Regions from separate parts of the Homo sapiens genome. Here regions 2 and 3 are each linked to region 1. The links come from fine-mapping of genetic effects on gene expression. A gene starts in region 1. Each other region holds a variant in brackets. All regions are shown on one strand. Distances are between the middles of the regions. Region 1 holds the start of DAP3 (death associated protein 3). Region 2 has its middle 15 kb from the start of MSTO1. Region 3 overlaps SYT11 (synaptotagmin 11).

What was found. PIP is the estimated chance that this variant, and not a neighbour inherited with it, causes the effect.
Region 2: its variant is fine-mapped to the expression of DAP3 in whole blood (TOPMed, PIP 0.96).
Region 3: its variant is fine-mapped to the expression of DAP3 in tibial nerve (GTEx, PIP 0.98).

The regions. Positions count from the first base shown.
Region 1 is chr1:155,686,156-155,691,155 of GRCh38, reverse strand. DAP3 (death associated protein 3) reads right to left here and starts at 2,065. Exons shown (of 13, transcript NM_004632.4): 1 at 1,982-2,065. YY1AP1 (YY1 associated protein 1) reads left to right here and starts at 2,382. Exons shown (of 11, transcript NM_139119.3): 1 at 2,382-2,497; 2 at 2,955-3,085. It also overlaps the pseudogene LOC124904430. RefSeq lists enhancers at 1,917-1,966, 2,342-2,976 and a silencer at 2,457-2,506.
Region 2 is chr1:155,622,214-155,627,792 of GRCh38, reverse strand. It overlaps the pseudogene LOC100419798. Among named protein-coding and RNA genes, the nearest start is that of MSTO1, 15 kb to the right of the region's middle. The variant C/A (reference allele first, on the strand shown) is at 2,476.
Region 3 is chr1:155,866,805-155,872,383 of GRCh38, reverse strand. It overlaps SYT11 (synaptotagmin 11), which reads right to left. Exons shown (of 4, transcript NM_152280.5): 2 at 3,593-4,419. Among named protein-coding and RNA genes, the nearest start is that of SYT11, 10 kb to the right of the region's middle. The variant A/G (reference allele first, on the strand shown) is at 2,381.

The DNA of each region.
Region 1 (5,000 bases):
GCAGGTGGATCATGAGGTCAGGAGATCGAGACCAGCCTGGCTAACACGGTGAAACCCCGTCTCTACTAAAAATACAAAAAATTAGCTGGACGTGGTGGCGGGTGCCTGTAGTCCCAGCTACTCAGGAGGCTGAGGTAGGAGAATGGCGCGAACCCGGGAGGCGGAGCTTGCAGTGAGCCGAGATCGCGCCACTGCACTCCAGCCTGGGTGACAGAGCGAGACTCCGTCTCAAAAAAAAAATAAAATAAATTAGCTGGATGTGGTGGCATGTGCCTGTAGTCCTAGTTGCTCAGATGGCTGAGGTGGGAGGATCCCTTGAGCCAAGGAGCTTGAGGTTGCAGTGAGCCAGGACTGCACTACTGCCTTCCAGCCTTGGCGACATAGATCCTATCTCAAAGCAAACAAACAAAAAAAAGTGTAAATTTACAGAAGAGTTGCAAAGGTAGTACAAAGTGCTTTCTTACAATTTTCATTAGAGTTTCCTTAATGTTACATACATATGACCATGGTACAATTTTCAAAATTAAGAAATTAAAGCTGGTACAATACTATTTAAAAATTGCAGACTTTATTTGCATTTCCTCAGCTTTTCTGCTAATGTCTTCTTTCTTTTTTTGAGACAGGGTCTCGCTCTGTCACCTAGGCTGCAGTGTGATGGCGTGATCTCGGCTAACTTTGCAACCTCTTCCTCAATCCTCCTGCTTCAGCCTCCCAAGTAGCTCAGACTACAAGCGTGTGCCACACCTGTCTAATTTTTGTGTCTTTTTGTAGAGATGGGGTTTCACCGTGTTGCCTAAGCTGGTCTCGAACTCCTAGGCTCAAGCAATGCGCCCTCCTCCGCCTCCCAAAGTGCTGAGATTACAGGTGTGAGCCACTGCGCCCAGCCTAATGTCTTCTTTCTGTTACAGGATCCAGTAGAAGATTCCACATCTGGAGATCTTTTCCTTTCTTTATATCTATCACCGACATTACCTACTCTTTAAAAATTTTGTAAAAGGCATAAATTTGAAAAATATATCCTCATTAATCTAAATCAAGTCATTGATACAACTATTTAACAAGACGCCCGGCCTGCTTTGTTTTATTAACGACTTGGAGGGACAGAACACTACCCATTACACCCACAAACGTTATCGACATCAACAGAACTGTAAATGACAACACGGCAATACTCTGCACCTTCCCTATGCCTAGGAGCTAATTCCACTTTACATATATTATTATTTCGTGTGTGTGTGTGTGTGTGTGACGGAGTCTCGCTTTGTCGCCAGGCTGGAGTGCAGTGGCGCGATCTCGGCTCACTGCAACTTCCGCCGCCCGGGTTCAAGCAATTCTCCTGCCTCAGCCTCCCGAGTAGCTGGGGCTACAGGCGCCCGCCACCACGGCCGGCTAATATTTGTATTTTTAGTAGAGACGGGGTTTCACCATGTTGGCCAGGATTGTCTCGATCTCTTCACCTTGTCATCCACCTGCCTCGGCCTCCCAAAGTGCTGGGATTACAGGCGTGAGCCACCGCGCCCAGCCCTATCTTATTATTTCACACACCAACCCTGGAGGCATGTTTGGAGTTGCCTAATTTTTATGTACACTTTTTGATAAGGAACTAACAAAAATAACTTGCTGAAGACAAGGGAAACTGAGTCCAGAACTGAATGAGAAGCACATGGTTTCTTCATCCTCCATCACCAGGCTGTCTAACGAGGCTGAAGTACCATCCATGAGTAAGTGCGTCAAGGGCAAACAAACATCATCGCATATGGACAGTGGTGTGAAATTCGAGAAATCCGAGGAGGGTTAACAACAACAAAAAGCACACCACCACGCCGAACTTCCTCGGGTCCCAGGTTGGCAACTCAACGCCCGGGAGGAATCCCCCCCGGAGGCGCGCCGGTCTACCGGCCTCACTCCCTACCTCCTGGAGGTCCGGAGTCCCGCTCCTTTCCCTCAGCGGTACAATACCCGTGTCGGTCCATTCCCTCACCGTGAGTCGAGGACTAGTTCTCCAGACTAGGCGACCGACACACGCTGCCTGGGGCCGGCTCCAAAGCGCCCGTCCTGAGACTGCAAAAAAGGGTCGGGTCATCCGGCAGGAAACGACTCAACGCGCAGCCGCCGCGGCCTCCAACCACCGGCCGGCAGAGGGGCGCTAGGCCGCCCTCGATCCCCTCGCCGCGGTCCCATGGAGGAGGAGGCGAGCCGCAGCGCCGCGGCGACGAACCCAGGGAGGTAGGTTGTCATGGGACTCGGCCGGCCACCCTGGCAATTCCAGTCAAACGGCAAGCCAGACTCGCTTTGCCGGTCCCTTCCTCTCCTGCCCCTGCAGCCGCCAGGAATGGAACAGTCCCGCGGTGGGGACTGTGGGAGGCGCACGCGCGAGGAGTGTAGGGTGGGGGTGCTGGCGGCGGCTGCTTTGGCGGCGGTTGGTGGCCGTGCGGGCGGGGAGGGAGGGGGAGGAGAGAAGAGGAGGTGGAGAAGGCTTGGGCTCGCGCCGCTGAAGGTACGCGTGAGGGCCTGCGCTGGAGCCGGCTTGACAGGGTCTGAGGGGGAGTGGAGAACTGGGCGAGGAGGTTCCCGTGGGTGAGCGCGTACGGGATGGCTGGCTCGCAGGACGGCCGAAGGTGGTGGTTGGTGGGAGCAGCCAGCGACGAGCCCGTAGACACTCGTACGCGTGCGGGCTGACGTGCGCGCTACATGGCCGGAGTCGGGCGAAGCGGGGGACCGTGGGGAAGAACGCGAGGAGGGAGGAGTGGGAGGTTGGGGGTGTCGCTAGGCGCCCTTAGCTCCCTCCCTCTGGAGGAGCTGCCGCGGCCACTCTGCTGCCGCCGCTGCCGCCGCCATTTTGGGTTCGCTTTGCGAGGGGAAACGATCCCAGTGTCGGTTGCGGGATCCGCCTCCTCTCAGTTTGCCCCTTTAGCCCTCCACCTTTCCCTTCTCCTCTCTCGCATTTCCGCCAGTCGGCTTACCCGCTGGCCGCCTCCTGACAAGCGGGAGGGATCCGCGGTGGACCCAGGGAAGCGGAGGAGCCTGGCGGCCACCCCCTCTTCCTCACTTCCCTGTACTCTCATCGCTCTCGGCCTCCGACACGGTGAGTAGAACGATTTGGGCCGGCATTCGGGCCTAAGCACTCTCTCAGCGATTGAATCCTGGGCTTTCTGGGAGCCACTGTCATCTCCCGGACCTGGACCTCTGGGAGAGCAGTGGTGAAGATGGGGGAGGGGAGAGCAGGGAGGGGGATCCTGAGCCTACCGGGAAGTCCCTCCAGGCGGGGTGAAGGGGTGTCCCTGACAGGCAGACTCCCGGAGGGGGCTGGGAAGTAAGCGAGTGGAGGCGGAGTCGGCTGTGCCCCTGACAGGTTAGTTTGTGTTTGTAGGCATGATCGGAGCCTCCCCCATAGTCCAGTTTGTGTGTGTTTAATTAAGGGATAAGAGTGGTCGAGGACACGATCTTGAGAGGGGATTTTACCTGTGTGACAAGGTCTGTGGTGTCCCTGCCGCGTTGAACGGTATGTGGGAACGACAGGATGATCTCAGTGTTGTACGTTTAATAAATGTCACTGGTTAGTTTGTACATGGAAAGAGATGTTTTTGGTCTAGCAGACAGATGGTCTGTTGGTGTGTAGCGGCTGTGTTGGTGTGTGTATGTGAGGATGGCAAGTGTTTCCGTAAGAGTTTGCCTTTATTTGTGTAAGTGTAATGGAGTTCCCCTTATAAGTTAGCTTATTTCTTGAATAAATGTTGGGAGGTTCCTTGCAGGTTGATATGTGTGTGTATTTTAGGGATTGGGAGCCCCTAGTTACTTGTTGGGAAAGAGCGGCAATGGTAGTGTTCTGTACAGCATGTGTCTGTGAGGTCAGGGAGGGGAGAAACTTGGCATAGCCAGTTGTGGTCTTAAGAATAGTTTGTGCCTTTGGTTAGAGTGAGTTGTGTAAATGTGAAGGGCCAAAATATCTTTAACAGAATCATTGCTACAAAGCTGTAAAGAATGGGTGGCCTTATTTGTTGTCGCGGGTTTATAGTAATAGTTTACAATACAATAAGAAAGCTCTTTCAGTTTCTTTGTGATACTGAATCTCTGTGAAAATGGTAGGATGCTTTCTTCCATTTTACAAAATAGGAAATTTAGGCATAAGGAGAGAACTTCTCCAAGGCCGCATGTTAAATTGGTGACAAAGTTGGAACTGTAACTCCCATATTTTCACTACTACTGCAGCAGTATATTCAGCATACCATGGTGCCTCAGGAAGTCTTTGTCGGCAAATCTGAGTATGCTGGAAAGATAGGAGCACATAAGACTGGTTGGCTTGTATTTGGGGGAGACCGATTGTGTCAGATATGTATGTGGAACGTAGCTGTCCTTGCCGAGTCTGACCTGTATGAAATGCATATCCATGGCTATATTATTTTGGATTTATGGAGGAAGCAGAGCATTTCTGACACTTAAGGTTGTATGCGTGAGGGAGAAGGCTTTCACAGCTTAACTTGTACCAGAGCAGCTGCATGGGTGCTGACAGCTTAACTTGAAATCTGTGGGAGGAAGGATCCTTTTTCACTCATTCAACAAATATAACCATTCAATGAATGGTCCATGCCTTGAGGTGAGGATCATCAAGGTGTCTCTGTAAATAGCCTGGATGCAATCTGAGGGGAGTTGTTTTGACGGTGGTAGGTATTAAGTTGAGGGAGGCAGTGTGGAATTAAAACCAGAGAACTGTTTTTGGGTACTGGTAATTGTTAATATATGTGCCTGTGGATGTTGGAACTTCTTGGCTGGGCTGAAGGAATCCTTTGAAAGACTGATTTCGGCAGGGCGCGGTGGCTCACACCTGTAATCCCAGCACTTTGGGAGGCCGAGGTGGGCGGATCACGAGGTCAGGAGATCGAATCACGAGGTCAGGAGATCGAGACTATCCTGGCTAACAGGATGAAACCCCGTCTCTACTAAAAATACAAAAAATTAGCCGGGCGTGGTGGCGGGCGCCTGTAGTCCCAGCTACTCGGGGA
Region 2 (5,579 bases), 64 kb after region 1:
CATTGGAAGTACTACGATTATAAATCTCATATTAATCCTTGTGTGCCTGTTTTGTCTGTTGTTAGTCTGCAGGTGTACCCAACAGCTCCGAAGAGACAGCGACCATCGAGAACGGGCCATGATGACGATGGCGGTTTTGTCGAAAAGAAAAGGGGGAAATGTGGGGAAAAGCAAGAGAGATCAGATTGTTACTGTGTCTGTGTAGAAAGAAGTAGACATGGGAGACTCCATTTTGTTATGTGTTAAGAAAAATTCTTCTGCCTTGAGATTCTGTTAATCTATGACCTTACCCCCAACCCCGTGCTCTCTGAAACGTGTGCTGTGTCAACTCAGGGTTGAATGGATTAAGGGCGGTGCAGGATGTGCTTTGTTAAACAGATGCTTGAAGGCAGCATGCTCCTTAAGAGTCATCACCACTCCCTAATCTCAAGTACCCAGGGACACAAAAACTGCGGAAGGCCGCAGGGACCTCTGCCTAGGAAAGCCAGGTATTGTCCAAGGTTTCTCCCCATGTGATAGTCTGAAATATGGCCTCGTGGGAAGGGAAAGACCTGACCGTCCCCCAGCCCGACACCCGTAAAGGGTCTGTGCTGAGGAGGATTAGTATAAGAGGAAGGAATGCCTCTTGCAGTTGAGACAAGAGGAAGGCATCTGTCTCCTGCCTGTCCCTGGGCAATGGAATGTCTCGGTATAAAACCCGATTGTATGCTCCATCTACTGAGATAGGGAAAAACCGCCTTAGGGCTGGAGGTGGGACCTGCGGGCAGCAATACTGCTTTGTAAAGCACTGAGATGTTTATGTGTATGCATATCCAAAAGCACAGCACTTAATCCTTTACATTGTCTATGATGCCAAGACCTTTGTTCACGTGTTTGTCTGCTGACCCTCTCCCCACAATTGTCTTGTGACCCTGACACATCCCCCTCTTTGAGAAACACCCACAGATGATCAATAAATACTAAGGGAACTCAGAGGCTGGCGGGATCCTCCATATGCTGAACGCTGGTTCCCCGGGTCCCCTTATTTCTTTCTCTATACTTTGTCTCTGTGTCTTTTTCTTTTCCAAATCTCTCGTCCCACCTTACGAGAAACACCCACAGGTGTGTAGGGGCAACCCACCCCTACAGGGATGCCCTAGGGCTAGTGCTCACTAGGGGATGACTAGAGGTGCGGGCACTCCTATGTTCTCCTTTCAGATGGGAGACATTCCTTCAAAAGTGAAGCCACTCCTGAGGTGTATTCTGGATAATTGGGACCAATTTGACCCTCAAATGCTGAAGAAGTGACTTATATTTTTATGCAGCACCACCTGGCCACAGTATCCTCTTTCCAGAGGAGAGACATGGCCACCCGAGGGAAGTGTAAACTATAATACCATCCTACAGCTAGATCTCTTTTGTAAACGAGAGGGCAAATGGAGTGAAGTGCCATATCTACAGGTTTTTTTTCTCACTAAGGGATAACCCACAATTATGTAAAAAATGTAATTTACATCCTACCAGGGGTCCTCAAAGCCTATCCCCATACCCAGGTCTCCCCATGGCTCCCCATCCCACTAGTAAGGACTCTCCTTTGGCCTTATCAGCCCAAAAGGAACCAGACAAAAAGATAGTCAAGGAACCAAAAGGCACCAATGGACCTTGATTGTGCCCCCTCCAAGCCGTGGGAGGAGGAGACTTTGGCTCAGCACAAGTACATGTCCCCTTTTCCCTCTCAGGCTTAAAACAGATCAAACTGGACCTAGGAAAATTCTCAGATAACCTGATGGATATGTAGACGTCTTACAGGGATTAGGACAATCTTTTGATTTAGCATGGAGAGATATTCTGTTGTTTTTAGGTCAAACATTAACTCCTAACAAAAAAGAGGCCACCTTAGCTGCGGCCCAGGAGTTTGGGGATCTCTGGTACCTAAGCCAGGTAAATGATAAAACGACATCAGAAGAAAGGGAACAATTCACCACAGGCCAATAGGCAGTTCCCAGTGTGGATCCCCACTGGGACCTCGATTCGGAGCATGGAGACTGGAGTCACAGGCGTTTACTGACTTGTATACTAGAGGGATTAAGAAAGACCAGAAAAAAGCCAATGAATTACTCAATTATGTCCACCATAACACAGGGAAAGGAAGAAAACCCTACGGCATTTTTAGAGAGGCTAAGGGAGGCATTAAGAAAACATACCTCTTTGTCACCTGACTCTATTGAAGGCCAGCTAATTTTAAAGGATAAGTTTATCACTCAGTCAGCTGCAGACATTAGAAAAAAACTTCAAAAGTCTGCCCTGGGCTCCGAGCAAAATTTGGAAACTCTATTAAATTTGGCAAATTTGTTGTTTTATAATAGGGATCAGGAGGAGCAGGCTGAACGAGACAGACGAGACAAGAAAAAGGCTGCCACCTTAGTCATGGCTCTCAGGCAGACGAGCTTCAGTGGCTCTGAAAGAAAGAAAGGCTGGGCAGGCAACCCACCTAAC[C/A]GGGCTTGTTATCAGTGTGGCTTACAGGGTCACTTCAAAAAGGACTGCCCAAACAACAATAAGCCACCCCCTTGTCCATGTCCCTTGTGCCAGGGAGATCCCTGGAAGGCACACTGCCCCTTAGGGTGAAGGTCCTCTGGGCCAGAGGCCACTAACCAGATGGTCCAACAAGACTGAGGGTGCCCAGGGCAGGCACCAGCCCAATGCCATCACCATCACAGAGCCCCAGGTAAGCTTAACCAGTGAGGACCAGGAAACTAACTTCCTCCTGGACAATGGCGTGGCCCTGTCAGTTTTACTCTTCTGTCCCAGACAACTATCCTCCAGGTCTTTCACCATCAAAGGGGTCTTAGGACACTCAGTCACTAGGTATTTCTCCCACCCCCTAAATTGTGACTGGGGAACCTTATTATTCTCACATGCCTTTCTTATTATGCCTGAGAGCCCTACTCCTTTACTAGGGAGAGACATATTAGCTAAAGCAGGGGCCATTATATACTTGAATATAGGAGAAGGAATACCTGTTTGCTGCCCTACTCAAGGAGGGAGTTAATCCTGAAGTCTGGGCAGAGGAAGAGCAAGAGCAGTATGGACAAGCAAAAAATGCTTGTCCAGTTCAAGTTAAATTAAAGGATCCTACTTTCTTTCCTTATCAAAGCAGTACCCCCTCTGACCAGAAGCCCAACAAGGGTTACAAAAGATTGTCAAAGACCTACAAGCACAGAGATTAGTAAAGCCATGCAACAGTCCAGGCAACAGTCCTATTCTAGGCATACAAAAACCCAACAGACAGTGGAGGTTAGTGAAAGACCTCTGAATTATCATTGAGGCAGTTGTTCCCCTGTATCCAGTGCCAGGACCAGCTTGGTCAGGGAGACCCTAACCCAGCAGCACTAGAGGAATTAAAGACACACATACAGAATATAGAGGTGTGAAGTGGGAAATCAGGGGTCTCACAGCCTTCAGAGCTGAGAGCCCTGAACAGAGATTTACCCACGTATTTATTAACAGCAAGCCAGTCATCAGCATTGTTTCTACAGATATTAAATTAACTAAAAGTATCCCTTATGGGAAATGAAGGGATGTGCCAAATTAAAGGAATAGGTTGGGCTAGTTAACTGCAGCAGGAGCATGTCCTTAAGGCACAGATCACTCATGCTATTGTTTGTGGCTTAAGAATGCCTTTAAGTGGTTTTCTGCCCTGGGTGGGCCAGGTATTCCTTGCCCTCATTCCGGTAAACCCACAACCTTCCAGCATGGGCTTTATTGCCATCATGAACATGTCACAGTGCTGCAGATATTTTGTTTATGGCCAGTTTTGGGGCCAGTTTATGACCAGATTTGGAGGGGCTTGTTCCCAACAATCCAGTTGTACCTAATCCTTATACTCTACTCTCCCAGATACCAGAGGAAGCAGAATGGTTTACAGTCCTAGATCTTATGGACGCTTTCTTCTGCATCCCTCTGCATCCTAACTCGCAATTTTTATTTGCCTTTAAAGATCTGTCAAACCCAGCATCTCAGCATACCTCGACTATCCTGCCATTCATTTTCAGGGCTAGGATACTAGGAGGTCTAGGAACTGGCATTGGAGGCATTACCACCTCCACCCAATTCTCTTACTGTTGGGGAAAAGCTGAGTGTTGGGAAAAAAGCTGAGTGTTGGGGAAAAAGCTGAGGCAGGGCTTGCATGTCTGATATAATGTAAAAGAGTCTTAGAACAGGTCCAGGGTCCAGGGTCCAGGGTCTAAAACCCCTTGTGGCCTTTGGAACACCAAGCTCTGTGCCAAAGGGTGAAAGGCTGCCCTGCTGCACCACACTCTAAGCCAAGGGCATAAAACCCCTCATGGCTTGAATGGAATCCAGGGCTCAGGGCATAAAACCCCTTGTGGCCTCTGGAATGTGTCTAGATTTGCTGGCTCCTTGTTTCTAGCCCTCCCAGGCTCATAGATCGATTGTGTCTTAAACTAGAAGAACATGTTCCCCATTATCTCAAGTAGCAGAACATGTTCCATATGCTTCAAAGAAAATGCTAAACTGTCACAGCTGTAGATCACACACTTGATACACTGCTTTCTTTGAACCCCCACATCCTCACCACCTGCTTCTTTGTTTGATCACCAATAAATAGTGCAGGCTTCAAGAGCTCAGGGCCTTCACAGCCTCCATACTAGCATTGACCCCCTGGTCCCACTTCTTGCACTCTTAACTTATCTCATTCCTTTGACTCCGCCGGACTTCGTAGCCCCCACAGCCTGGTGTTGGGTCTGATCACCCCAACATATTACAAATTATCACAAGAGTTAAATGATGACATGGAACGAGTTGCAGATTCACTGGTCACCTTACAAAGCTAGCTTAACTCTTTAGCAGCAGTAGCCCTCCAGAATTGGAAAGCCTTAAATTTATTAACAGCTGAAAGAAGTGGAACCTGTCTTTTTCTAGGAGAAGAGTGTTACTATTTTGTTAATCAATACAGAATTGTCACCAAAAAAGGTTAAGGAGCTTCGAGACCAGATACAGTGCCAGGCACAAGAGCTCCAAGACACAGGACTTTGGAGTATTGTCAACCAATGGATGCCCTGGTTTCTCCCCTTCTTGGGACCCTTGGTGGCTATTGTGATGTTGCTTATCTCTGGACCCTGCATTTTTAACCTCCTTGTAAAATTTGTCTCTTCCAGAATAGAATCCATGAAACTGCAAATGATTCTACAGATGGAGCCCCAAATGACCACCACTAGCACCTGCTATCGAGGACCCCTAGACTGACCCACCAATCTGTTCTTGCACCATGACACTGAAGACTCCCCTCCTGAGGAAGGCTCAACTGCAGAGCCCCTTCTACACCCCAGCTCAGCAGGAAGTAGCTAGAATGATTGTTGCCCAACTTCCCAACGGCACTTGGGCTTTCCTTTTGAGAGGAGGGACTGAGGGACTAAGTGGCTAAGTTGGCTGGACTTCCTGGGTCAATAGGGACTTCCCTAAGGGAACTTTCCCCTAAGCCAAAATGAGTTATAGCTGCAAACTAAGGGATTGAACCTTCAACCAATCATATAGGGAGTTTAAGCTCTAGCTGCAGCCTGATGTTTTTAACCAATCATGCC
Region 3 (5,579 bases), 180 kb before region 1:
TTAGGTGGACCATCATAAGCTCAATAAACCCTTCTTGAGGCCAGATGTCCTGAGGGCCACCTCTAGCCTAAATCACAACCATGGGAAAACAAAACCTTAACATTCAATCCCATCCCCCTTTTCCTCCCTGCAATACACATACATGATCTGTTGCCCAGTCTGGAGTGCAGTTTGTGGTAATAGCTCACTGCAACCTCAAACTCCTGGGCTTCCCGCCTTGGCCTTCCAAAGTGCTAGTATTACAGGGGTGAGCCACTGTGCCTGGCCATATTTTCTTTTATTTTTTTATTTTTTATTTTTTATTTTTTATTTTGAGACAGGGTCTCCTTCTGTCATCCAGGCTAGAGTGCAGTAGCTTTTTCCTGGTCTATGTAATCCAGACCAGGAAAAAGCCCTTTACAGCCAGTGTGGCATGGTCCAGGGCAGCTCTAGCTGACGTTCACCAAGGAGAGATCCTACTTTGCTATGGTAGGGAGGATTTGGGATAGACATTTGCAGCCTGCACTTCTAGGGAACCTAGTGGATGAGTGACTAGGGAGATGACAGCCATGGCTCAGATGGAACATAGTCCTGCCTACGGGCACTGGTTGGGAAAATGGGTTTAGGAAGCCTGGGAGGCTGGAAGGCTCTAGGGTGGGGCTGCACAGGCTCTGGGTAACCTATCTCGGGCCTTCTCCAGGGCATGTGTTGCTCAGGATCCTAGCCCTGGCTTATCCCTCCTCAAGGGAGTTAATAAAGTGGAAAGAAATGTGGCTCTTGCCAAGAGCCCCTGGCAGCTTAGCAAATGCCATTGTCTGTGCTGTGTCCAGTGCCCTTGATTTGAGGCTGTTTTGTTCCCAGCCCAAATCAGTCCCTTTCATTGCCAGTCTCTTCCCAGCTGCAGCTTGGCACAGAGCCATGTTCTACTCCCAGCCTTGGGCTGCAAGTGTATAGCTGTCTGGAGGAGTCCAGCTGGTTGGTGACTTTACCAAGGTTGGAGTCACAGGGAAGGGTGTATTGGAAAGGCTCCTCCTTCAAGGAGAGGTAGACAAGGGAAGGAGTAGAGGATGGGAGCTGCTGTGAAGGGAATACGGAAACAGCAGAATGGGTCGGCAGAGCCCTGAGGAAAAAAGATGGGACAGGGGAGGGGAGAGAAGGGGATGAAACAGGCCACTGCTTCCATTTCTATTCACACCTTCTGATTCCAGTCTCAGAGGATGCGAAAACCCCTTCAGGGCTGGACTCTGGGATGTCTCATTGTATCCTGGCATTGAGAACCACAAGATGTTGTGGCAGTGTCTTGTTTATGCTCTGACGTTCACCAAGTTTTCCTATAATTAGCAGAACCTCTTTCAGAGTGATTTTCTAGCCAAGGAGCCCTTGTATTAGGTGGATGAACATAACCTCAATAAACCCTTCTTGGGGCCAGATGTCCTGAGGGCCACCTCTACCCTAAATCACAATCACAAATGTGTCTAATATTCTTCAAGATTCTTGGACTTCCCTGGCCCCTGTGACATGGATCTGAGTGTGCCAGGTGGCAGTAGCAGTTCCTTCAGGCAATGAAAGGCAGGACCGGGCTGGCTGCAGGGGGACAGGTGCCTACTACAGAGCAGAGAAGGCAAGAATACACACACACAAAGTGTGCTCCCTGCTGTCCCCCACCCAGACTTGGCACAGTACCCTTCTTCAGCAGGCAAACCTTGTTCCTGGGTACTCACTGCACACTCTGCACCTGCTAACTTAGGAGCCTCTTCTATCCAGTCCTGAGCCTCCTGTCTACCCACTGAGTCCAGTGAGGACTTGCAGGTAAAAAAGGTATCAAGAAATAAGTATGATCTGCCCACAGGCAGAGCTCTTTCTGGGAGATGTGCAGTTGTTTCTAGTGGCCTCGAAATTCTTTCCTAACCTCCTTCACCAATTCCTCCCTTGTCTTCCTTCACTGTGTCAAAACAAAATATAAATATTTACAAACCACATGCATCACCCAGGTATCAAACTTGACTAATAATAGGAATAACAATAATAGTAACGGTCACAATTTATTGAAGGCTCACTGTGTCCTAGTAGCTATATAAAATCATCATCCTACTCTATTCCCATAAGAAACTGAGACTTAGCGAAAGTGAAGCAGCTTGCCCAAGGTCATTTAGCTGGTGGAATTTGGATTTAAACTCAGGTCTGACTTCAAAGTCCTTGCTATTTTAACCACTTATGTTATACCCTGAAAAAGACATGAAACTCTAAGTTTAAAATTTCAACAACTTCTTTCATAGCACCTACCATACTCACTATACAGTAATTACAAAAAATATTTGTCTTTCTCCTTCAATAAAGTGAAACCTCTTCAAGGGCAATCATATGCCAGGCATATTATCTCATTTGATTCTCTGTAAGGAAG[A/G]CAATATTATCAGCTCCATTTTACAAATGACAAAATAGAGGCTTAGAGGGGTCGAGTAACTCACCCGTGTCACACGGCTGGCAAGTGGTAAGCTGGAGAGTAAAGTCGTGCAGTCCAATTCTGGAGCCCAAGTGTTTAACTGCAGCATTTCACTGCCTCCCCAGTTGTGGAAGAAATAAATGAACTAATGGGGTTGGGTGGGGCTACACTTACTGTGCTCCTGAAATTACAACTCAAGAGCCAATGTCGGTCCAGTGGGAAGAGGGAGAGAGAAGGCAGGATGGAGGGCCCTCGTCCCTCTTCTAATACAAAGAGGGAGGACAGGAGAAATGGAGAGAGGGGAAGTGTCTATGGCAAAGGTTTGGGCCTAGAAGGGTGAAGCAATTCATTGAATTGCATTGTAAAATGGTCATAAGAAGACATGTGCATGACGGCTGGGTGCAGTGGCTCATGCCTGTAATCCCAGTACTTTTGGAGTCCGAGGCAGGTGGATCACCTGAGGATAGAAGTTCAAGACTAGCCAGGCTAACATGGTGAATCCCCGTTTCTACTAAAAATACAAAAAATTAGCCAGGCGTGGTGATGGGTGCTTGCAATCCCAGCTACTCGGGAGGCTGAGGCAGGAGAATAGCTTGAACCTGGGCGGTGGGGGTTGCAATGAGCTGAGATTGCGCCATTGCACTCCAGCCTGGGCGACAAGAGTGAAACTCTGTCTCAAAAAAAAAAAAAAAAAAAAAAAAGACATGTACATGGTATCATTTACACCCCTAGGTTAGGGTTGGGAAAGGGAAGCTGAGGGAAAAATTACTGAATTATTGTCATAGCTTCTCAGCTGTGAAAAATAAATTCACTGGAGGAAGATCACATCATTTTGGAGAGGAAATTAGCTCCCATATCCCTGATATAATGAAGGATCTACAAATGGTAGGCCAGCCTGTTCCAAGTAAGCTGGACAGCATCAGGATGCCAACCACTAAGTGAAATGGTGAAAGCTATTGAACCTTCTCTCACCAGGAAGTTGCTTCTTAGAGGAGACCTCATCTGCCAGGCCCTCTGTCTTACTCTGACCACTGCTTATCCTTGACATCCAAGAGCTTCCTCTCTACAGCCCTTCTTTGCCACCCAACCCACTCCCCTCCCACTTCCATTTATCCCCTGAGATATTTTCTCCCCCAACCTACCATTGCTCCCCAACACACACTTCCTACTCACCTGGATATTCCTTTTGATGATGTCCCTGGTCAGTTGTACCTTGCCTGTGCTGGGGTCCACCCCTGCCAGTGGCACCATGACCTCGCCAATGACATCATCCCGAGAGAAGCGGTCAAAGCTGAGGACAAGGAAGTGCAGCACCAGGTCCTGCAGCTGGCTGTAGGGGATGCCATAGAAGGTGAAGGTCTCGTCAAACACAGGGTCCAGGGTCTTCCGCAGCACTCTGGTCTTCACCCGATGCCGTTTGTCAGGAAGGATGGTCATTTTGATGTAGGGGTCAGATCCCTGGGTCTGGTCATCCATCACTGGCAGCCCATGGGCCTCCTGGATTGTCACCACCAGGGCTTTTTTCGGGAAGTTATAGTCCACTGAGAAGGTGAGGGATCCTAGCATGACATCCTCCTCTGGAGATGATGGAGAGGTGGTTTTGCTCTCCCCAGGGGTCAGGCTTGTAATAGGGCTCCTTAGTTCTTCCCCATAGTCCATTTTGATGGGTAATTGGTCTATACAAGATCCAGAGCTAGGCCCCCTGGGATCTTTGTCTCGGCTTAGCAGGCCAGCCTCTGCTGCGTCCACCAACAGGTTCCTACGTCCACCTTCCCTCCCAGGACCATCTTTGTCTCTCCGCACTTTGATGATTTTCTTCTTGTTGCTGAGGGTCTCTGGGTATATGCTGATGCCTTTGAGCATGTGAATAAACTTGTATGGTGGGTTCTTCTGCTTCTTCTCTGCCTGCTGGTGGCAGCATGACCAGACAAAGACGGTCACCGAGACACACACCACCAGCACAGAGGCCCCGATGAGGCCGGCCACCACCGGTGACACATCTGAAGGCGGAGATCAGAGATGTGTCAGGGCGGGTGGACTTCACCTCCTGTCTAGATCTCCCCTGCTCATTGCCACTGCTGGAGCCAAGCTAATCTTCAATCTAGCCTCTAAAGCAAAATGTGCTCATCTGGGCTTCAGAATTTTTCCCTTCTATTAGAGGCACCCTCTCCCAACCTCTCCAACCACTCCACGGCTTTTCCTCCCAGCCTTCTATAGAAAGCCTTCTCTGAAGCACCCCACTTGACTCTATGTTCTTTCCTAGACCTTCTCTCAGCACTTATAGACTTGGTTTGCTCATACTGATTTGTGCTTCACATAAAGCTGCTCTGTACGTGTTCTAAGATCACCTTTTTACATGAGCACCTGTTCACTTCAACTGTTACACAAGATGTTTGGTTTCAGGATATTCCATAGCATCCAGAACAGGGCCTGCACTGACTGACTCGCTGTCAGGCTAGGGTGGAAGGGTGTGGAGATGAGTTTAGATGGTCTTGGTAGGGTGTTCAGGGTAGTAAAAATGGATGGGTGCCAAAAGGAAGAATTCTGGGTTTATGTACTTTTAAAATATGTTCCAAAATTTTAGCTCCCAGGTATATAAAATACAAGGCTGGGTGCAGTGGCTCACACCTGTAATCCCGGCACTTTGGGAGGCTGAGGCAGGTGGATCATTTGAGGTCAGGAGTTCAAGACCAGACTGACCAACATGGTGAAACCCCGTCTCTACTAAAAATATAAAAAATTAGCTGGGCGTGGTGGCATGTGCCTATAATCCCAGCTACTTGGGAGGCTGATGCAGGAGAATCGCTTGAACCTGGGAGGCAGAGGTTGCAGTGAGCTGAGATCGTGCCACTGCATTCCAGCCTGGGTGATGGAGCAAGACTTCGTCTCAAAAAAAAAAAGGTATTCCTCCAGGATGAATATATCCATTGTAGGCAAAAAAATAGGTGTGTGTATGTATGTATATATATATATGTGTGTGTGTGTGTGTGTGTGTGTATGTGTATATATGTATATGTGTGTGTATATATGTATATATGTGTGTGTGTATATATATGTATTTATGTATACATATATTATTCTAAATAGGAAGAAATAGAGACTTTCTCTTTTCATTATTATTACCTTAATAAATCCTTCACTGGAAGAAATAGGGGTTTTC